Linked DNA regions of Homo sapiens: regions 2, 3, 4, 5 and 6 are each reported to be linked to region 1. The links are microRNA targets in miRTarBase. Many come from high-throughput screens and were not tested one by one. Region 1 holds a microRNA gene; each other region holds the end of a gene's coding sequence.
Evidence for each region. Region 1 holds the annotated microRNA hsa-miR-133b (UUUGGUCCCCUUCAACCAGCUA, at 2,436-2,457, shown strand). A microRNA usually pairs through its seed, bases 2 to 8, with sites in the 3' UTR of a target mRNA and lowers its output. Matches are read on the target gene's strand: a 7mer-m8 pairs with bases 2 to 8, a 7mer-A1 pairs with bases 2 to 7 and ends in A, and an 8mer does both.

Region 1 (4,042 bases):
GCAGCTTCAAGACAGCTATGTCACTGGCAGGAGGAGGCAGAAGGTAAGATGCCAGGACTACAGGGCCAGGAGAATGCACACCAAGGAGGAGAGGACAAGCCAAGACAGAAGCTTCAACGTAACCCTGCACAGACCACTCTAGAACCAAGCCATGTTCTGTGGTGCCCTGCTTTCTCACCACCACCATCATTGTGGGCTTTTACCTTGTTGCCATTTCTACAGTGCCTTATTGAGTGCTTTGATGTCTGGGATATCTTATTTATTCCATACAGAGCTCCCAAGCTGGAGTCCATCTTGCAGAAGTTGGCATCGCTGGTTAAACTCATTCTGTGTTTCCTGATCAGCAGTTTCAACAATTTCAATGATGAAGTGCAAACACTTGCAGCTGAGGAAGGGAAACATGTAAAGGACAGGCTGGAGTTGAGAGTGAACTTCTTGGCCTCCAAAGCAGTCAGGATTGTCTCTAGGACTTTCCCACACCCCTGACACTGTCCATGGTGCCCACTAGGGACACAGTGCACCTTTCCTTCCTTGTCATTAAGCCTCGCAACAAGCAGGCAGAGTAGATACAACCTTCTCCTGCTGTGCAGATGTAGAAACTCAGGTTAAAAGATGTTATGTAACTTCCTAGAAGCAAAAGAGCCAGGAAAGCATTGGTAGGATTTGAACCCAGATAAGTGTGACTCCAAGGCCACATGCATTCCACTTAGTTTTACTTGTCTTCATCAGGAAGAGAAAATAAAAGGGCTGCAATGCCTAGCCCCCAGGGAGAAGGACAATTTTCTAGCATCATTCAAACTATCCTTTCTGCCTACCTCTTTTCCCACCTGCTCCCATACATCGTGAAGACTGGCAGGCCACCTTTCTGGGGAGTTTCTTCTTCTTAGTCAGCTCTCTCCCACAGCTCACACCTCCCTAGAAACAGAGAGAAACCAGTGGGTACTCCTATTAGTTCAGTGGTTCTCAAACTTGAGCTGCATCGGAATCACCCAAAGGGCAGGTTATAGCACTAATTTCTGGGTCCTACTTCCAGATGTTTCGGGCTGGTAAGTGTTGCCATTCTTTTACAAGGCCAACATACAAATCCAGAGTTCTCCTTTAAAATCTGCAAGAATCAAAGATTTTTCCACCTCCTTTGAGAAACAGTTTAGTCAATGCTATCCCCTTGTTAAACCAAACAACCTCAATGTCTATGGCTGGGAGAATAAATAAATTATAGTATATTCACACAGTAGAAAACCATAAAGCAATGAAAATTAATAAACTGCTGCTACCACATCAATATGGATGAATCTTGCAAATATCATTTTAAATGAAATATCAAGTCACAAAACAATACCTATGATATGATGCCATTATATACTAAAATATGCATATATATTGTTTAGAAATATATGCATAAATGGTAAAAACTATAAAGAAAAATATCAAAATCATAAGAAAAAATAAATTCAGTGTGATTGTTACCTCCGGGGGGAAACATAAAGAAATAAATTGGAAAAAGCATTCAGTACAAAGAAAGCAATAGTATAAAACAGTAAAAAATAGTTCTTTTTAAAAGGTAGATCGTTGGGCCAGGCGTGATGGCTCACGGCTAAAATCCCAGCACTTTGAGAGGCTGAGATGGGTGGATCACCTGAGGTCAGGGGTTTGAGACCAGCCTGGCCAACATGGCAAAACCCCATTTCTACTCAAAATACAAAAATAGCGGGACATGGTGGCAGGTGTCTGTAATTCCAGCTACTCAGGAGTTTGAGGCAGGAGAATCACTTGAAACAGGAGGCAGAGGTTGCAGTGAGCTGAGATAGCGCCACTGCACTCCAGCCTGGGTGACAGAGTGAGACTCCATCTCAAAAAAGTAACAACAAAAAAAAGTAGATCGTTGTTCATGGGTATTGGTTTTACCATTATGTACCATCACTTATATATTATAAATATTCTTTTATAAATATATCATACTTGAATTAAAAACATAATTTAAAGAAATTAAAATGTTAAGCATTCAAAGAATATATGCCAAAATGTTACATTTCTTTCGGAAAATGGGAAGAGGAAGCATTATGGCATACTGTCATTTTTCATATTCTATAATTCTATAGCATATTTGATCTTCATGATGTTTCTATTTGAAAAAAGATTAAAGATTAAAGAAAAAATAAATTGAAGTCATGCAACATGAAATACAAATTATGTATGATTTGTATGTACAAATTGTATGAGATGTATGTACAAATCATGTAAGAGGACATTCTGGACAAGGCAAGCTCCTGGCATTTGACAGATGCTAATGCTGCTTCTTTTTGCATTACAGGCTTAGACAAATGATGCTTGAGACACACCAAGATACCTGCACACTAGAGGCTGCAGTCACCTCAGAAGAAAGATGCCCCCTGCTCTGGCTGGTCAAACGGAACCAAGTCCGTCTTCCTGAGAGGTTTGGTCCCCTTCAACCAGCTACAGCAGGGCTGGCAATGCCCAGTCCTTGGAGAAACAGAAGAGATTCAACTGCAACTGAAATTACCTACTAAAACTTTCCTTGAGAAAACAATTCTGGTTTTTTCACCATATTCTTATGCTCCCAGGAAGGAAGAGAAGAGGAGTCCTGGAGTCAAAAGTGAGCAAGATTTTAATGCTCAACACACACTGTTCTGTGCCTTTGCACTCACAGCTGCAGCCACTTACATGCTTTTGACAGACACACAGTCAAGAAAGAGTTTGAGGATGGAGTTTGTGCCAACCCTAAGCCAGCCAGGGGAAGAGCATGAGACATAGAAGACAGGGCTCCTGCTCACTAGGGGCTAACAGTCTAAGGAAAGAAATTAGACATGTATATATGGTGTGATCCAATTGAATTGCAAGTTATAGCATGGCTAGTTCCAAGGCATAATTCTTACCTATCCCACCAAATATGCCTAGCACATTATGTATCATCAAGTCTCTATTGATCTATTCAGCCCAAGATATCTATTCACTAAGCAATCATTTCTCAGTTCCCTGATCTGTAGAATAGGGATAATAGTACCTGTCACACCAGGCACAGTGGCTTATGCCTAAAATCTCAGCATTTGGGGTGGCTAAGACAGGGGATTGCTTGAGGCCAGGAGTTCCAGATCAGCCTGGTCAACATAGCAAGATGCTGTTTCTACCAAAAAAAAATTTTTTTTGTTTTAATTAGCTGAATGCGGTAGTGCACACCTATAGTCCTAGCTACTTGGGAGGCTGAGGCAGGAAGATCACTTAAGTCCAGGAGATGGAGGCTGTAATGAGCTAAGTTCTCATAATCGCTACCTTTTACTAAGGGAGAATTCTGACCTGTCCTTCCAGTTTATCTTTTAAGATTTGTATCTTTTATGGTGTGTGTCTGGAACTTAGACAGTAATAAGTAAATATTTGGGTTTAAAATTCTATAGACATGTGTGTTCACATGCTGTATTCTGACACAAATGGGGTAGCATAAGTGCCTAGAGCCCACCACAGTGACCTCAGAGGAGAACACAGAGCTTACTAGCACAAATCTTTGCATTCAGGAAGACCTGGGGTTGAATGCTGCCCCTCTAATTTATTAGCTGTGATATATCCTCTCCGCAGCTCAATTAACATTGCACAAGCCTTAGTTTACTCATCTGTAAAATGGGGACAATGATACCAACCTCAGTTACCGTAAGGCTTAAAACAGACAGTGTTAATAAAGAGCCAAATATAAGCCCTTAAGAAATAGTAGCTGTTGTTTTACTGCTGTAAATGGCAACAGCACAAGGACAATGCTGTGTCCACAGGCACTTGTATGTAGAAGGAAAGAGCCAAATTAAAAAAAAAATAGGAGAAGAACTCAAAAAATACATAAAGGCTCATTGCTCACTGTAGGGTTTTGTTTTTTGTTGTTGTTGTTTTGTTTTTGTTTTTGTTTATTTTTTGAGACAGGGTCTCACTCTGTTGCCCAGATAGGAGTGCAGTGGCACGATTTCAGCTCACTGCAACCTCCGCCTCCCAGGCTCAAGCGATTCTCCTGCCTCAGCCTCCCAAGCAGCTGAGATTACAGGCA
Region 2 (4,042 bases), not on the chromosome of region 1:
CTAAGAATCTTTCCTTTACTGTACCCAGAAGAGTATCTTGGACCCACTCAATATCTTTTAAACAAATAAATCCCATAAAATAATATCCCCCAAATTGTTTAATTCAGTAAAATATGAAGTCAAAGGCCACCTAAAACACTATATTTTATTTTTAACTTTTCTATTGTTTTGGTCACATGTAAAGAATAAAAATGAAAACACACTACTCTGTCACATCAAGAAATAACTTTATCCAAAAGGAATTCAAATGTAAGATATATTTAGCATCAATTCATATATTAGTAACTTACACATGTATTGTCAAGTATGACATCCATAAAAGCACAAAACAGTTTCTAACACGTTCCATCAAACTTCTGGCGTACTTTATGTGTCATTTCCATGACTACTAACCACATATATAGAGACTAGGGGATACTTAGTGAAGACAGCTTTCCAGGAAGTTTACAAAATTGAAGAAAAAAAAAGTATGTCCAAATATGGCATAAGTAGCAATGGGGCCCTGAATTTACTTTGGAAAGATTGCCTAAGGCACCACTATAATGAACAGTTGTAAATCTCTGATCAGACTTCAAATTTTTCTGGTCTTAAAATTGCAATTCTAACCACAAGGTTAGGTGACTAGATTAGCTGGTATATTATTTCCTCTGTGCCAGCATCTGTAAGAAATATTACATCTATCCTGGGCACCGTCACTCCGATATATATTTGTAATAGATCTGATTATATGAGGTGTGAAAGTCAATATGGGTAATTTTTCTTTAAATGCATTTTAAGAACAAACAGCACTTAAATGAATGGTGGCACAACAGGGAAAAGGACTATTTTAATGTAAAACAATATTAAATCAGCGTATGATGAGGTTGAGTGCTGAAACTGTGAAAACTGATAATTTAGAAATTGTAAATGCTTTTATTCAAAACTGTAAAAAGGCACCAATTACCCTAGTTTGCTGGAATCACAGTTCTTATGAATAATAGCATCTACTGATGAACATGATCATGAATTAAATGTTTTAAATTTTAAAACAATTTTAAAATAGAATAATTCTGATAAAATCAGAATATAAAATAATGAAGACCAAATCCAATTGACAGTGATTACCTGTTATTTGGCTGAAGAAAACCAGGAATGCTCATAACCAGCAGTTCCCAAGCACCTTGTGCAGGTGACTCAGGGGCTGCTGTGGAGCTGGTTAAGGAGAAGGAGGATATGCCCAGTGACTGGGACCCTGCCACAGCATCAAACAGATAAGCTCACTTCTGTCTGTTTTACTGTACATTGAGAATATGTGTAAGTCATTTTTTAAAAGGCTTCTTGTGATTAAAAGAGAAAATTCTGAAAACCACAGCAACATATCTATGCTGTTTCCAAGCATACAAAGAGAATTAGAACATCTGAGACAACTATGGCTCCAAACAATCAGAAGAAGGGTTAGTTTTCTTTTCTCCTATTGATAATGTCAAAATGATGTGTCATCTATTGAGCCATACTATGGAGTAGCAGGCTACTAGTTAGATGCCTTCCCCAGTTAACAGCACATATCCAAAGGACAGCTAGCCAAGTGGGAAGGTGGTAGGTAAATGCTCATCTGGGCTAGGCAACCACCACAGCAAGCAGGTCCCCTCTCAGCCTGGCCTTGGCAATGAGCTGCTTCTGAGAAGCCACAGCTATCTGTGGTTGAGAGCTCACTCCCTTGAGGCATTGCAGAGAACAAGAGACATGGGCTGTGGGGCAGCTTTTCAATAAAACTGAGAGGCACATCAACATGGCACTGTATGTGTCCACTTAAGGATATATGATAAACATGCAATTTCAAAAGGTAAATTATTAAAGATAATTGGCCAATATATAGATATGCATAGTTTTTAGCACATAGGCCCTCAATAAAATATTAGGATCTATTCTGAAAATGTAATGTTCACTAAGTAATACGCTGTAAAAGGTAAAAGTCAGGAAAAGAAATTCAACTCTTAAAAAAAAAAAGCACATAAAATCCACCCTATCTTAATGCAGCAGTTGGAAAAGTTTTCTTTTTTCTTTCCTTTTTCTAAGTTGCAGTAGGTTTTATACCTAATAAGGTATGCTGTAGACATAGGAAATATCACATTATTAAATTGTAAAATGCAATTTTGATTAACAGATAACTGGTATCGTGAGTTTAAAAATCAGATGAAAATGGTTCTTAAAAAAAGGAGAAAATGACTAAGTGGATCTGTACAAATCAATATATGGGACCTTAGCAAGGAAAGTATAAAATTTTTTTTTAGTAAGCAGTTTTTCATTAGTTAGAAGGAAACGGAATTCTGAATTTCACCTTATATGTTTGGTCCTCTTATCTTTCCTGGACAAAACAGTCCTAACCGTTTTAACAAATCTCAATTAAAGTAATCTAATAATGTAGAATTCAGGACAACCTACCATCTGTGCATCTACAATATCCTGAAAGTCTTGCTCAGTTAATGAAAAAAAAAGCCAAATCTGACCATGTTTACAGTTTTCCACAATAAAATAAAATATCTAGAAAGGCAAATAAAAATGGCTTACTTACATGAGGTTATTTTTACTTGTTGATTGTACATTTAAAAAACTGAGTATGTGCCTTTTCCTGCTCATTCAGTACTTTTCATAAAGTCCCAAGTTGAGTGCATGCTGTTTTGTAAACCACAGTGTCTAAACTGTAGCAAAAATCAGATGCATAGACAGGTTATTTTTACCTTGCAGAAAAGCACTGTATACAGAGTTACAGGAACAAATTTGATATCATATAATTTAAGAAGCTCTCATAATCAGGTATGGACATTGGCTTATACAACATACACTGTGAATCAGGCACAGCAACCTGCAAACCACATCATCCCAACAGTTTTCCATTCTTCCTATTGACAAACACTTAAACACAGCATTTTCATCATATGAAAGTAAACAAAAACAACAACAGAATAAGCTTTCCCCACACTAATTTCTAATCCAAAGAGCTTTACTGCAATTAATGTAAATTGCTATCAATCACTGAATTGACTGGGCAAAGATGGACTTGGCACTGTCCCCCCAAAATAACCTAGAAAGAATGCTTTAAACAGATATAATCCATAGAGAAAGAGATTTACATCATAAATGCTGGGGGTAAAAAGTACGTAGAATGACAGATACACGATTTGGGGTGAGAGATGGCATTGCTCCACATAACACAAAAGAATTCTGTTGAAGTGGTCACTGCTTCTGTTGTTTCGTGGCTGGGTTCTTGGGAGGAAGGAGTTTGTATGTATTGAAGTAGCCCACCACCTGCTGGGGAATCTCTGCCAAGACACACTGAGCAAGTGCTTCTTTTGGAGCCTTGTGAAAAACAAAATAAAAGTGACTTTATTAGCAACTGAATTTTCCTGGCTTTTTCATAAAAGACTAGGGATACTTCAGCAGCCACTAAAATGAAGCAATTCTAATTCATAGGCCTGTACCTTTTCTTAGGAACCGCCCATGAAATATGGAATGAGTTAACTAGCCAATGTTACTTATGATTGCTATTACTATCCCTGCTAACATTTGTCAAGTCCTTTTTCGGTGCCAGCATTCTAACATTTGATGATTTTGTTGTTGTTGTTTTATAACTTTTAAATGTGGTTCTTTCACTTACTTGGTATTAATTTTTTTTTACTTTTTTTTACAACATTTATAGATTCATAGGAAGTTGCAAAAACAGTAAAGAAAGGTACCATGCACCCTTCACCCAGATTCCTCCAAAGGTAACATCTTGCATAACTATAGTACAGTATCAAAACCAAAACCAGGCAGCTGACACTGATACAGTTCACAGAACTTACTCTGATTTCTAGTTTTACATTACTCATTTGTGTGTGTGTGTGTGTGTATGTGTGTGTGTTTGTTTCTGTATAATTCGATGCAATTTTGTCATCTGGATAGATCTGTTTAACCACCACCACAATTGAGATACAGAACTGCCTCAACACCACAAAGATCCCTACCTAACATTACTACTTTATAATCACAACACTCCACTTCCTCCCCTTCCATTGCTGGTGGG
Region 3 (4,042 bases), not on the chromosome of region 1:
TGATTTTTTTTTAAATGGACTTTTATGTCAGGAATGTGTTTTGATCCTTTCACATTCAAATTTTGCCTCTCCAGAAACTTGTGCTGGGGTTCAGTCTTGTACAGCTAGAATTTAAATAGCCCTTGCTTTTAACATGGAATTCTGTCTTCTCTAGTGCCACAGAAGGGCTCTTTTAGTCACTAATTAGCTAACAGAAACTGCATCTGCCATTTCCCTTTTCTTTTTAAAGCTATAAAAGGGGCATGTCTGGACACATATTAAGGGGCAAGGGAAAAAACTAATTTAATGGAAGTGACGTAGGGACACTATATTTAATTGACATTTCTATGTTCCCAAAATTTTACAAACATTGCTCTATATCCCCCTTCATTGAGAAACACTTCCGTTTTTGGCTCTTTCTATCTCTGTGTGGCTCAATTGAAGACCAGCCCATTGACTCTGTCTCCTTTTCTCTACAGGCCGTTTTTACTATCTGATCCACCCCACCAAACTGACCTATGATGAAGCGGTGCAAGCTTGTCTCAATGATGGTGCTCAGATTGCAAAAGTGGGCCAGATATTTGCTGCCTGGAAAATTCTCGGATATGACCGCTGTGATGCGGGCTGGTTGGCGGATGGCAGCGTCCGCTACCCCATCTCTAGGCCAAGAAGGCGCTGCAGTCCTACTGAGGCTGCAGTGCGCTTCGTGGGTTTCCCAGATAAAAAGCATAAGCTGTATGGTGTCTACTGCTTCAGAGCATACAACTGAATGTGCCCTTAGAGCGCATCAGTTTTAAAGTCATTAAGAACATGTGAAAGGTGTTTTTTTTTTCCAATATGAACTCATGCAAGTTACCAAAACTGTGATAACCCTTTTTTACTTACTGTAAAGAGTCATTTTCATAAAGATCAATTCATTGATTTGTTTTTTGTAAAGCTATCATTCAATATATATTATAAATTAATATAAATTTAAGGGAAGCTCTATGTAAGGAGACTTAGAGCCAAACTGTTTAAGCTGTATCATCCCAACAAAGTATCCTTTCATGAACGGGGCATGCAATAGCTTAAGAATTGCTAGGATTAAATTAAGGAAAGTAAAGCTACTCAGAGCAGCAGGTTCCACAAGCACAAACTTTACACATTTGTACAATTTTGAAATGCACTACAATAAACAAATTAGAGCAACACATTTGAAATACAGGCTTCTTTACATAAACTGAGAGGTTATACAAAACTCAGTTTCACAAGGGAACAATCTATACCTTTCTAAAAGTTAATATTTCAAGTCTCTAATAGGCAGAATATTTTACTCTTTAAAATCCTGCCTTTCTGACCAAAAAAAAAAAAAAAAATTCATATGGATTCCAATCCATAGTAACAAGCACAGTTAAAACTCCTCAATAATCCCATTTATATGAAGCATGACACATAAATAAGCAGATAATATTTAACCAATGAAAAAGACTTCTACCTTCTTATAATTAAAATTACACATGTCTAAGAGGAATTGTTTTATCTTTTGAGTAGCTTTACCGAGTTGTATTTAAATTCTAAGGGCCATTTGCTAAGCAGCATTTAGCATCTACTCAGGGCAGTTATATAGATAAACTGCTGGACAGAAAAATTGTAAAATTTAGCAGCTTGATTTTCTGTTAGCCTATGAAATGTTATTGTCCTATAAAAATAACTTTAAACTGATTTAATATTTCATATTTACATTATATGAAAATCAATTACATTATAAAAGGAATCCCTAATGCAGAAACAAAGATGCAACTTTCAAAATTCTTATTATTCCTATTTGTATATACACGAGAGAACCCAACCAGTGCCTGTGTTTGGGGGGAAAAGTCAACAGTGTAGTTCTAAACCTTATCCCAAACAGAAAATGTGGTTAATGATGTCACTTTCCTTGCTGGTCATCATTAGGCTTAAATTAAATGCTGAAGCTGTCATCAAAGAGTTTACACTAAAATCTTCAGGGCTTTAAATAAAAGGTTAAGTCCAGCTTCCAAACACAATTTTCCACATTAGCAGCTCCAATCTTCTTAAATAAAGCTCTGTTTTCCTATATTTTTATGACTGCTGAGACCCCACAGGGACCAATATTTGTATTCAAATTACATTTCATGGTTTCCCATTGTTTCACAATGAGTTCTAATAAATGGGATTTACTATAATAATCCAAGTATGACATAGCCGGTATGCTTTCATGAATGTTTTTATGTAGATTTTCCTCCCATGAACATGAGTAAATAAATCTGTTTCCTGAATGGATTGTGGTTGCATTTAAAGCTCTGTAATAATTCTAATAAATTTACTCTATAGAGTTCTGTGTGTGGAAGGTATAGAACAATTGGAAGTCCATGAAACCATAACTATAATCATATATTATTCAGACAAAATATTGTAATAAAAGTAGGTCCTTTCTTTCATCAAAAACATATCTGAAAATTTTCAGATGCTTTAATATTAAAAGATGACAATGTTATGTATGCACATTTTTAAGTTAGGTTGGATATGCAAACTGTACAAAACTATAAATCCAAAGAGTTTGTAAAGTTTAAACTCAAACACTGGTGGTATAAATAGAACTTGCACTTCTAAATTAAGGAAGATACCTAAATGGTCTAGGATGAGATGATATATTATTTAAAGAGGGGACTATCTCCCAAATAACAACTTTAACACCTCAAATATGGGGGCTAGCTCATTGAAAGAAGTCCATACTTGAACTATTATTATGTATGTTCCGATAATTTTGTTGAAAATACAAGTGGGAACAAATTTCTATTGAAGCAAACATCTAATTTTCAGTTATGTCCAGAACTCTACTTTATAATGTTAAATGTAGTAGTATTTCTTAACTTTTAAATACTTACTACTATAGGAATTGGTGCTGATCAAAATCTCTGGAGTGACTGTTAGCTGATTAAAATCTATACCACTTACACATCATTTTTCCATTCGTGTAAAAAACAAAAAATCTTAACACAGTGAATACTGCTGAGCAGAATTTTTTCTTCTCATTTTGCTCAAAGGACCAGAATTTCCATGCCCTTTATACTCATACTTGAATGAGTCTTTTTAATGTTCTCATTTTGCTGTTTTTCCACCAAATGTCTATTTTCCTACTTCATTCCCCAAGATGTCTCACTGAGCAGGTCTGAAAAAGAAAGGTTATTCTAATACAATTCCTAACAGAAAGTTGGTACAACACTGGCTAATTCAGAAATCGCTCCTCAGACTTAGATTCCAAGAGTATCAAAGAGATTAGATGGGAGGCTGGGCCAGGAACCCTTGTTTTAATGTATTTGTCCATAATTAACACTGGTGACCATATAAGGAACAAAGTATATCTGCACATTTCACTGAGACATCTACATTGGAAAACCCAAACAAAAAGAAGCAATTCAAATAAAAAGACAACATAAGAACGAAAATAAGTTGGTCACATTAACACTGGAAGCCATCTTTAAGTGAGTGCTGTCATATTGTGTCACAGTAATTTTTAGCCAAATATGGCGTTTGTAAATTTAAACTTTCTCTCATGGAAAGGGGGCTGGTACCTGTCAAAGTGTTATTTTATGCAACAATATAGTCACTTTTTATTTTGGCAATTAGAAGTAGACTCAAAGGAGATTACAATTTGGTTGCTGGCAGCCATTCTGGGTTTCTTGATTTTAGTACTCCAAAGAATATGGTGGTCTCATGGAGTAGCTGACCACTAAGGAGGGGAGGATTAAAAGGGAATCACTTATCAGTTTTTAGCATAGGATGCATTAAGAAATATCAACGGATAACTGACATCGTTTTGTTAAGAAGTTAACTGTATCGTAGCTCACTACTGCCAGAGCGGCAATGGATGTACAACGAAAGAGATGAAAAATACAAAAGTTATTAAGCCACCTGATTAAAAGAAAACCAATATTTAAAGGCATTTAATAGATATCAAGTATAACTTTGAGGAGAAGAATCAATCTGTATTACCAAAAAAAAAATGTTTTGATTTTCTGTAAGATACAATGAACTGGTACATTAAAAGTCAATTTTGTGTTAC
Region 4 (4,042 bases), not on the chromosome of region 1:
ACTAAGTGGTTCTGAAAGCAAAGGTAGAGTTCATCTGTGGCTGGGCTGCAGCCCCTGGGCTTGAGGTGGGCGTGATCACGGGGAATGCAGGCTTGTCCGAGGAACGCCTGGGCCAGTCACATCTGAACGCTATGCCTACAATACTTAAATGTATTTACATGTGTTTCTTTTAAAAAAAGGATTACACATTTTATTTTTTAAAAAAATCTAAAAAAGGTGAAAAAAATGAACTTGTATTTTATTTTACATGTCTGCAGGATACACAAGGGTAACTTGTCAGAAGAGAACATCCTCCTATCAGTTCAAAACAACACATGAAACCAGGATACAAGACAGCCTCGACTCTGCTACCACCGTGCGCTCTCTGGCTGGTGCACACACAGCCTTGGAGTGCTGATTGGGCAACACCAACTGGTCCCTCTCATTGACAAGATTAACATAAAATAAGGCACATACATCGCAAGAATCAAAACTTTGTGGCTCAAGAGGAAGAGCCAATGTGTGAGGAGTTGGGAGGGGTTAACTTTTTCAGAAAAATAAAACAAAAATGGTTAGAAAACGTTTAACACAGACATTAAGCAGGAGTAGAATGTGTGAGCCTGCATGTTTTAGAAAAGGCAGGATGGTGACACTAGTGAGGCGGTCCTCTCGCTCTAAAATGCATAGGTTAGAGAAATGGAGAGAGGCTTGGAGGCTGGGGGTGAGTCTCAAGATATGAGATGCCTAGCCTACAGAGATCCCAAAAGGATGTCCCAAAAAGATGCTTCTAAGTGACCTCAAAAGACCTTCCTTCCACTGGACTGCCACAACAGATCACTGAAATTCTGGAGGAGTATACTTTCTTCTTCCTCCCTCCTCTCCTCTGTCCTTCTGAAATTTCCATATTGAGAGAAGCCAAACATTGAGCTGAAACTTGCATCTCCTGCAAATCTAAAAGCAGTAGAAAGGAAAGCAAATATAAAAAAAAAAAGAAATAAAAGAAGAATAGGGGAAACCCAGAAAATAACCTGAAACCATAGGAAAGAGCAGAAGCACAAGACAACAACAGTGGTGGGCCGGATCACTGTGCATCCCTCCAGGAAGGACAAAGCTGATACAGGAAATAATGGTAACTGAGAAATGGAGGTTGCATCCGAGAATACTACTGGAAGAGCCCTCTGATGGAGGAGGTCAGCATGGTCCCTTCCACCCAAGCTCCTTTCTTAGGAGGAGTGGAGAACACTCAGGCCCCATGCTTTGAAAACAAGAGTTGGAAAGGGATTGAACCAAACCATTAGAGCACACAAGATAAGACTGGAGATTTGGAGATTTGTGGAAAAGTGAGACTGGATCTCTGATTCTGTGACAACATTATGCCTTGTTTCAGAAACACAGAGAAAGTCTTGCTTTTTCAACTGAAAAGTGGTAGAGCCTCTACTTTCCTATGCTCAGATCAGTAGTTCTCTTTTGTTATGGGGCTGTTCCAAAGGAGACACATCCGTTAATTTCAAAGAAGACTTACATGGGGGAGAACAGCAGGCATGGAAGGGGAATTGCAGTGTCCCTCTGCTTGTCTCAGGAACATCTAGTTGAAAGCAAACCTAATAGTCTTAGCCAAAGTCCCCAGTGGCAAATCAACCTCCATGCGGAGATTCTTGGTCCAAATGAAAGAACATAAACATGAGAAAAGTGGGCTGGTCTTAACACTCTTTCTATTATCTAACACTTTATTTTACTTGATTTTGTCTTTCTACTGTAATTTAAATGGCAAGATTAAAGGGGAAAAGCCACATAATTGAATTATCAATCACTTGCAGTAAATCCAATTCCAGGGGTCAATGGGACAGAATACAGCAGGTAGCCTGAGGTGTTAATATTTTAACAGTTTATATAATTTTTTAAAGCAATATGCTGGAAAATCCATGTACTCTTTGTGCACACACAGTATGACTTTTATGTGTATCAAATGCACGTGGGGAGTAGCTGCACTTCAAAAATCTTTAAATGTTTTAATCCAAAACAAAAGTACAGATCCAGTCCACATTAAGGACTAACTGCATGTAACATTTAACTTCGTGAATGGATGCAGCATTCAATAGACAGGGTGTGAAAAAAGGCATCCACACAGCTACTAAACATCTTCCCTAGTGCTCTCAAATACTAAAAATGGCTGAAGCAATTTATTCCCACTATGTGGGCTTTCTCTTTTACAACTAAGTTTTATAAATCCCTCAAAATAAGGTATTTAGAATGGAAATCCTCCCTCACTATAGTGGAATTAATAAATGTTACTGATACAGCCGCTTGTGGGGTTGTTTAAATACCTATATACTTAGAGCTATATATAATCAATTCTCAGTTAAAATGGGAAAGAGATGGAACTAATCAACAAACACAGCAACTCATAAATATTCCCCCAACTAATTCTACCCAATTGCTTCAATCTACCATCTATCTAACTTCTTACCAGAACAGATAAAAGTAGCAATGTGGCTGAGTGTCACCAACTGTCCGTCCCTTCTCTCTAACTGCAGTGCGAAACAGCACTGAATGTTCATGAAGGTAGTGGGAGGAGAGGCAAATGTGATAACTGAGAATCGACCATACAGACATAGCCTCCCCCAAAGCACACTTACAGACATGAAGAGCTGAAAACCAAAACTGTGAGCGCCCATTTCATTTATAAGAGCCCCACGTTCCCATTTCTGTTTAACTGTGGAATGCCCTGAACTGAATTGGAGATGGGGGGAACATCAATATTCTGTCATCTATGCTACAGTGCACCCACAAAAGTTTCTTAAACTAGCTATCCATATTCTGATTCTTGTGCCCAATGTGGGAATTAAAATAAAAAACAGAAACCAAAACACAAAACAAAACACTGAGCACATGTAAAGGAGAATTTTAAAAGCTGGAAGTGTAACCCCTTGGTCACAAGCACACCAACTCCTATTTCCTTTGAGCAACAGCAAAACATGTCAAATCCTTTAATTTGACTGCTCTTCTAAAAGAAAGAAGAATATGCACATCACAAATTTACATCGGTTTACTAAAAAGGGGGCGGGGCTTACAGTTTTTTTTTTTTTTTTTAAAAAGAGGGTGGTTTGAGTGTAACAATACTGATTCAAAACTGAAATGGAAGACAGTTTCTCCCTAGAATACTTTAGGGTTTTTCAGAGTCCTTTTCCATAAAAGGAATATAATTGAAACACATCTCAGTTAGGTGAGATGAGATTGCTAAAATACATACAGAACTAAAAAAACAGCCAAAACAAAGTCAGTTTAATCTCTTCAACTCCTATTGATTTCCGTTGGTTGCAGTCTTTTTTTCCTAAAGCCTATTGCATAACTGCAAGGAATTTGCTTTCTTCCGCTAGGGAGGTCAGCAAAGAACTCATGTCCCCGATAGCCATGTTGGTGGTGCTCATGGACAGCGCTGGGAATGGGAGGGACGCCCGAGGCGTGGTGAGGCGGGAGGAGCTATGGGAAAGGTTCTGAATGATACTTGGGCTCAGGGCCCCCGACATCAGGCTGGAGTGGTCCCCATCGTCTATGATGGCATCGAAGTCAATCTGTACCCCTTCCAGGTCATGGCTGTCGAGGCTGTCCACTGTGCTTGTCACCTGATTAGCACCTGGGGAAAGTAACTCAGAGTTTTTGGCGCTGGTCCCCTGTAGCAGGCAGCTGGCGTCTGAAATAGAGAATGAACCAGCTTTCGTGTCTTGCTGACTGAAGCCCACGGTTTGGTCATAGAACTGACCAGAGTAATTCTGCAGATTAGAGCACAGCGGATGGGGCTGCCCTTTCATCTCCATCTTGATACCATTCACCCTGCAGGTCTGACTTGTGTCACTGAGCTGTCCTGACTGCAGAGCAAGGCTGTCCCTCGGCATAGCCTGGCGCCTGCTGCCCCCAAAGCTGGCACATGGCTGGTAGCCCCTGACAACTGCCAAGCTTGACGGCTGGCTGCCCATGCCGTGAGCCCCTGGCAGGCAGCTCTCTGGCCCTTGGTAGATGTTGATGTGTGAGGTAGCACTAATCTGCCCAAGCATCTGCTGACCGG
Region 5 (3,000 bases), not on the chromosome of region 1:
ATATTAACATCGTATTAAATACTATAAATTCTGACACAAACTAAGCCTGTAAGGACTATTTTCAATAACCCTTTCCAGCCTCTAAATCATACTCCCTGGAGAATATCACTCACCTTCTAAGCCACGACTATAAGCAAGTTTGTTACGTCAAATAGAAAACAATATTTAAATGGAAAACCTAAGCTGCATCCACTTGCTACCCAAGTTCTTCTGACATGCAGAAATCAATCTGAAAATATTTAAGAAAACATTAGCTTCAATCAATCCCCATCATCCTTGTTCTTCTGATACACGGATAATTCGTTGACACAACTGTATGACCTGCTTTATTTCACTTACTCATTTATAAAATAATATACCCATCCAATGACTACTTCTAGAGCCATATCATGTCAAGCATTGCTTTAGGACAAAGATATAGCAATAGTCAAGGACCTATACGCCCCTGACTACACTAAGGATACATATGTCCCTGCTTTCCAGGGTATCACATGATCCAGGTATCTCTCCCTAGTATAGTCAACAAGGAATAAATAAGATGCATTTCTTGGTTAGAACTGTTAAAGCTTACATCTGCCTCTTCCTAACCCCTTCTCAACCAACCCAGCTTAATTCTAGCACAGTATGCAAATCATGCCAAACATGACTCCATGCAGAGAACTATCAAAATGAGGCCACAGTGTACCAACCTTAACTGATTTTAAGGGTTCTTAGTTTCTAAGATTCTCATGCAGATCAGTATAATGTCCTAAAGGTAAATAAACCTTTCTTGCTACCTAAAGAAAATGTATCCCATATTCAGATTCGCAGCACAGAACCTGTATTCTGATAGTAGTAGTTTGAGATAACCAACTAGGTGTGGTGATTCCCAAACTTGGCTACATTTTAGAAATGCCTGGAAAACTTAAAAATCACATTGTTCAAGCTGCACTCCAGTTGGAGAACCACTGATGCAGAAAACTTGGGGGAAAATGAGCTGCTTTTCAATGATCTATGGATTAAAGGTACACTGACATTTCCTTCCACCATGAGCAGTGAGCTTCCTGAACACTGCTTCACTAAGAATTATTATGGACCTACTTGGTATTTAAGGGAAGGGTCAAACTTAGAGGAGAAAGCACAAACCTGAACATATAGAGGGCTAAATATTATCTCAAACTAAAATGCCAGAAAATAAAAATAATAAAGCTTTAAAATTTTATCCCAAAGTTTGTTAGAAATTGATGTTATCAAGAGTCAAATTCCCACTCCTCAATATCTGAAAAGTAAGAGACGGAGGGAAAATAACAACCCTCAGGCTGGCTTGTGAAGGGTTTTTGTTTGTTTAATACATCTGAAAAGAATGCATATACAAAGAATTGAGACATGAGAAAGCATTGGTTCAACACTAATGCATCTACAAGAATTAGGTTTGGGAAGGTGGGAAAGATTACCTCAACATTTTTAAAAATTGGAAACTGCAACCAAAATAAGCTGAAAAAATCCCTATTAACACTTAAGAAGAGTCTGCATTAAGAGTCTTTCCATGATTTTTATTAAACTAGAGAGCCTCACCTGGCTGCTCTAGGGTTCCTCATATGCAAAACAGAAATAAGGGGATTCCCCTGACTGGTCCCCATGTTGTTAAGTGTTCTCCCCACCCCCACCCTACCCCCAGCTTCTTAATGAAGCAGGCCTCCATCCTCCTAACTTGAGAGGATGTGAATCATTCCACAGATGTCTGTCTTCTAGCACCACCCCTCGTATTTCCTCTACATAACAGGTCTTCAGCTGCATTCTAGGAACACCATATACTACTGAGCTGCAAATCTATGCTAAGCATATAAGACAATGACTGAAAGGGAAAAAAATTTTTTTAATTACAAACTCAATTCATTTGGTGCATTTCAAAGGTGCAATACTTTTCTTCATTTATCAGTGAAAGAAGTTAGAAATTAACTTCCCAAAAAAATCAGCAAATGGCAAACAAATGTCCTTGAAAGTCACAGTCACATATAGTGCGTCCTAGAAAAGAGGAGGGGCAAGATGGGCTCCACCCACTTTCATGAGTTTCATCAAATACTGGATCTACTCAAGGGTGGAGAGAAAAGGCAACTTTCAAAAAGGAGTATGTTATTAAATGAGGCATTTACTATACTCCTTCCTAAGAGCACCAGATGGGGAACATGTTTTCTAAACTAGATCTAGGAAGTGGAATGTGGAATCAATCCGTCCTCCTCCCCTTAAGGGCTAACCACTGGTTAATGAATTAAAAAAACAAGACTAAAAAACAAACCCCACACACACTCCCCCCCAAAAAAAAGAGGAGGGAAAAAAACAAAACAAAACACTAAGATGTCCCAGATTACTCTCCAGAGTGGAACCAGGGAGCAGCTTCAACAATTCCAATTAGTCTGTTACAGAGTCATCCACAAGCATGCCTTGCTTTTAAACAACAAAAAAAAAAAAAAAAAAAACACACACACACAAAAATTTTTTTTTTGAAACAACAAAAAAAAATAGTACTAATCACTTTTCTGACAATACAATTACTCAAAATTAACTAGTACTGGGAGGGGGAAGGGGGGGGCCATACCTATGGGCCTTGTCTCACACGAGTGCATGTGGGTAGGTGCAGGGCATTTGTCATTATTGCAAAAACGAATTTTAATTTTTAATCTTTAGTTTGATTTAAACATTGCTTTTAGTATGATGCCGACACCAGCTGTGCAGAAAGGGCTCTGGAGAGATGTTCATAGCAGCACACACCTGCGGCTCTTCTTCGGTTCTGGAGGCTCCAGGGCAGCCAATATTGCTTCGTCAAATACATTCTTTAGGCCTTTCTGAAAAGGGGTAGAAAGAAAAAATGGGCGGTCTGATTTTCAGTATAATAAAGTTGGAGTTCAAATTTAAAACATTCAAACCCCCAAGAGTTGGCAAAGAAAGAAACATTAAAAACAACCCTGAATCTCAACACAATAATCTCACTTCACCAAGATTTGTCCAGGGCACTGGAAGGAT
Region 6 (4,042 bases), not on the chromosome of region 1:
AAAAAAAAACACTTTGGAAAGTAATAAAAGCTATACAAATGCTCATATCTTATTTTTATTCTTTGTCTACTTCCTAGGGGAAGAGTAATCTAAAAAACACTGCAATGGCCTATGTTCTAGGTTTCATGGGAAGGCTGACGTATTTTGATGTGTGTATACTATCCATATACTGTGCACTCCTAAGGACCAATAATGATTGAGGTAGAGTATCTGCAACGATGTAGGGGGTCACAAAGGAATCGCTTTTACAAATGCAGAGAGCTATAAGTAGTGCCTCAAGCAATTTCAAAATGTGGAGGCACAGTAAGCCTCACTCTGCCTGCATTCTAGGTGGCCTTCGTGATCCACCCCTTGAATGAGGGCTTTGAGGAGGGGGCGGGTTGCCTTTGCTGCTTTCAGATCCTGGGGAGCCAAAGCCTCCCCTGACTCGTTGGTCTGAAATTGCTTTCGTGGTCTGCCAGGGAGAATCCTGCCAGGAAGAGCCAACCTACTTGGGGTTGGGGTTGGCTGTTCCAGCTGTTTACCAATTGCCTCTCACTTGTAAAGTGTAGCTTTAATTATAGTTTTGCCAGAATTCATTTTAGGAATGGCCACTAACAATGATTTACTTGGGGAAACCTGTAAGCAACTGTGTCAAGCCACGTGCAGTGAAACCTGAATTAACTGAAATCTCATTAACTAGAATACATATTTCCTGCTCACCTCATTAAAAATGGGAGAACAAAGAACATAACACATGAACTGAGTTCCTATTACATGTCAGACACTTCACTACGCACTGGAACTACATACAGTGCAAAGAATGGACAGGCATTCTAGGAACTGACTGTCTTCCTAAATGGAAATCTGCTGTTTAATTCCAGTCAACTAGCAGGGGCTCCAAGACTTGCTGTTAAGCCAGACAGTAAATCAAGTCACTGTTCTTTTAAGATTGTTTCCTTTGGCCCGGTTTCATGGGCCTTATGTTGCAGAAACCTCTATGGACTTCCTCTTCAGGATTTGCTTCCAAGCAGGATGTTTTGCCAGCTGCCCCGAGTCCCCAGTGCAATAGCTGCGGCAATCAGTTTGGTGACTAACAGCAGGCTCTCCATTTAAATCATAAACTACATGGGTGAGTGGGGAAAAGTCTTCTCTATATTTTATATTCCCTGATCCAAACAAACCAAATGTAAAAGGGCATTTATGAGACAACCGGGATGTTTCAAACACTGACTAGACATTTCATGTTAATGAATTATTGTTCATTTTGTAGGTGTGATAATGGTGGGGTTGTGGTTATGTTTTTTTAAAGAATCATTATCTCTTGGAAATATATACTAAAGTATTTACAGATAAAATGATATAGTTTTGCTTTATAATAATTCAGCAGGTCTGTAGTAATTGATGAAACAAGATTAGGCATATGTTTATGGTTGCCTGGGGGCTGAACTGTATTATCCTCTTATTTTGCTCATGTTTGAAAGTTTCCACGGTAAAGTTTAAAAAAAATAATAATAACCCTTCATCGGGCGCGGTGGCTCACGCCTGTAATCTCAGCACTTTGGGAGGCCAAGGTAGGCAGATCACCTGAGGTCAGGAGTTTGAGACCAGCCTGGGCCAACGTGGTGAAACCCGGTCTCTGCTAAAAATACAAAAATTAGCCAGGAATGGTGGCACATGCCTATAATCCCAGCTACTTGGGAGGCTGAGGCATGAGAATTGCTTGAACCCAGGAGGCGGAGGTTGCAGGGAGCTGAGGTTGTGCCACTGCACTCCAGCCTCGGTGACAGAGTGAGACTCCGTCTCAAAAAAAGAAACAAACAAACAAAAAAAACCCTAATTATGTTAAATTAAAAATGTTTGTATTTCCTTTCCATCCACTACCTGAGTCTAGTAGAGGAGATAGAAGGTCCTTAATCCCTGCTTTCAGTCTCCCTATAAACTATGTGAAACTTTATAAACTTCTATTAACACAACATCTAGCACTCAGGAATCCTTACCTGCTGATCTCCTTATAAGAGGTTTTCATGAAGCCAGTACTTGTAGGATTAAATGTAAGGAATTCTCTATAATTTCTAAGATCTCTTCATTTTCCTCCGCTTTTATTATGGGTTTTTTTTTTTTGTTTTTTTTTTTGTTTGTTTGTTTGTTTGTTTTTTTGAGACGGAGTTTCGCTCTTATTGCCCAGGCTGGAGTGCAAAGGTGCGATCTCGGCTCACTGCAACCTCCGCCTCCCAGGTTCAAGCAATTCTCCTGCCTCAGCCTCCCGAGTAGCTGGGATTACAGGCATGCACCACCACGCCCGGCTAATTTTGTATTTTTAGTAGAGACAGGATTTCTCCATGTTGGTCAGGCTGGTCTCGAACTCCCGACCTCAGGTGATCCGCCCGCCTCGGCCTCCCAAAGTGCTAAGATTACAGGCGTGAGCCACTGCTCTCAGCCTTATTATGGTTTTGAGGGGTACAGTCAAAGGAAATTTGAGGACTTGAACCCCTCAGATATGAAACTGCCACCAGCGGGAAACAGAGAAGTGAGTTTCCATTGACTCTGGACATTCTCAAACCTGATGCAGGGGGATGGGAGAGGGTTGATGCTGACTGTGACATTGCAGGACGGAGCTTGTGAAACCCAGTTTCTCTCATCACCACGGTTTCATTAATTTTGAAAATAATGGTTATAGCTCCTTTTGTTTTTGAGATGGAGTTTCGCTCTTGTTGCCCAGGCTAGAGTACAATGGTGCAATCTCGGCTCACTGCAACCTCCGCCTCCCAGGTTCAAGCGATTCTCCTGTGTCAGCCTCCAGAGTAGCTGGGATTACAGGCCTGTGCCACCATGTCCGGCTAATTTTTTGTATTTTTAGTAGAGATGGAGCTTCACCGTGTTAGCCAGGATGGTCTCAATCTTCTGACCTCAGGTGATCTGCCCTCCTCGGCCTACCAAAGTGCTGGGATTACAGGTCTGTGAGCCACTGCGTCCGGCCCGATTATGGCTCTTTAAGAAAAAAACTTCCCACACTGAAACCTCAAATACTGATCACAGGATCCACCTGTGTTACCCAGCTGTTCTAGCAGCAAAAGTCTGAAAACGACCCCTCACTTTAATCAGGCAGGCAGGCAGGCATTCCACATGTACACCTGAAACCACACCAGACTATTTCTGCATATTATAAGTCACGAGAGAAAACCAGCTAGACCAATGAAGCAGCTTCTTCTACGATTAGATGCTTGTGTTGGGGGTGCGGGATTGGGGGAGATATGTTCTAGAAGCCACTGCCAGTTCTATTTAGAGTTAATCAAGCTTACCAGGACCCTGGGTCTCATGCAGCATGCAGCAAACAGCAGAGTTAACTGTAAAACAGTAAGAGCTGATGAAGATGGAGTGAGCATGAGGGGAAATCAAATATTATGACTTGACACAAACAATGAAGGGTTAGAGGTCAAAGGTGATTAGGAGTAGCAGGAAGGGGAAGTGGGAAGGGTGGACTGGTAGGAACCCCTGAAACACTGATACTCTTTTTTTTTTTTTTTTGAGTCAGGGTCTCTCTCTGTTGCCCAGACTGGAGTGCAGTGGCGCAATCATGGCTCACTGCAGCCTCAACCTCCCGGGTTCAAGCAGTTCTCCCACCTCAGTCTCCTGAGTAGCTGGGATTATAGGCAAGTGCCACCAGGCCCAGCTAATGTTTATTTATTTATTTTTTTTGTAGAGACAAAGGTCTCACTATGTTGCCCAGGCTGATCTCAAACTCCTGGACTCAAGCAATCCTTCGCCTTGGCCTCCCAAAGTATTGGGATTACAAGCATGAGCCACCACGGCTGGCCAGTACTTTCTTAATCTCTTTAGGGGCAGCTAAAGGAAATTCTGAATATGTGACTCTTAGATCCAACCACCATCTCTCAAGAAGAAATACTACTACCACCATTTCTGCCCTCAAAACTCACTACCGTGACTATGGGAGGAGGGTAGCACAGGTCTAACGGTGGCTCTTCCAGAAGTTAACAAATTGCTCATGAAATTACATAAGAAGCCAAGATTCAGGGCCACTTCTGCATCTGGAAGTACAGAA

Region 2: miRTarBase lists CPNE3 as a target of hsa-miR-133b. Seed matches in the 3' UTR shown: 8mer at 2,326-2,333 and 7mer-A1 at 168-174.
Region 3: miRTarBase lists HAPLN1 as a target of hsa-miR-133b. Seed matches in the 3' UTR shown: 7mer-A1 at 1,314-1,320 and 7mer-m8 at 2,082-2,088.
Region 4: miRTarBase lists GLI3 as a target of hsa-miR-133b. Seed matches in the 3' UTR shown: 7mer-m8 at 1,635-1,641.
Region 5: miRTarBase lists CDC42 as a target of hsa-miR-133b. The part of its 3' UTR that is shown has no 7-base or 8-base seed match.
Region 6: the mRNA of SEPTIN6 is a reported target of hsa-miR-133b. The part of its 3' UTR that is shown has no 7-base or 8-base seed match.

The regions. Positions count from the first base shown.
Region 1 is chr6:52,146,553-52,150,594 of GRCh38, forward strand. It overlaps MIR133B (microRNA 133b), which reads left to right and starts at 2,371; the gene lies at 2,371-2,489. It overlaps LINCMD1 (long intergenic non-protein coding RNA, muscle differentiation 1), which reads right to left. Exons shown (of 3, transcript NR_131248.1): 2 at 816-915; 3 at 262-385.
Region 2 is chr8:86,557,582-86,561,623 of GRCh38, reverse strand. It overlaps CPNE3 (copine 3), which reads right to left. Exons shown (of 17, transcript NM_003909.5): 17 at 126-3,336. The coding sequence ends at 3,214. Among named protein-coding and RNA genes, the nearest start is that of CPNE3, 45 kb to the right of the region's middle.
Region 3 is chr5:83,638,202-83,642,243 of GRCh38, reverse strand. It overlaps HAPLN1 (hyaluronan and proteoglycan link protein 1), which reads left to right. Exons shown (of 5, transcript NM_001884.4): 5 at 459-4,042. The coding sequence ends at 748. Among named protein-coding and RNA genes, the nearest start is that of VCAN-AS1, 78 kb to the right of the region's middle.
Region 4 is chr7:41,961,013-41,965,054 of GRCh38, forward strand. GLI3 (GLI family zinc finger 3) reads right to left here. Exons shown (of 15, transcript NM_000168.6): 15 at 1-4,042. The coding sequence ends at 3,318. Among named protein-coding and RNA genes, the nearest start is that of INHBA, 260 kb to the left of the region's middle.
Region 5 is chr1:22,091,250-22,094,249 of GRCh38, reverse strand. It overlaps CDC42 (cell division cycle 42), which reads right to left. Exons shown (of 6, transcript NM_001791.4): 6 at 1-2,822. The coding sequence ends at 2,733. Among named protein-coding and RNA genes, the nearest start is that of CDC42, 40 kb to the right of the region's middle.
Region 6 is chrX:119,622,054-119,626,095 of GRCh38, forward strand. It overlaps SEPTIN6 (septin 6), which reads right to left. Exons shown (of 11, transcript NM_145799.4): 10 at 3,282-3,326. The coding sequence ends at 3,323. Among named protein-coding and RNA genes, the nearest start is that of NKRF, 18 kb to the left of the region's middle.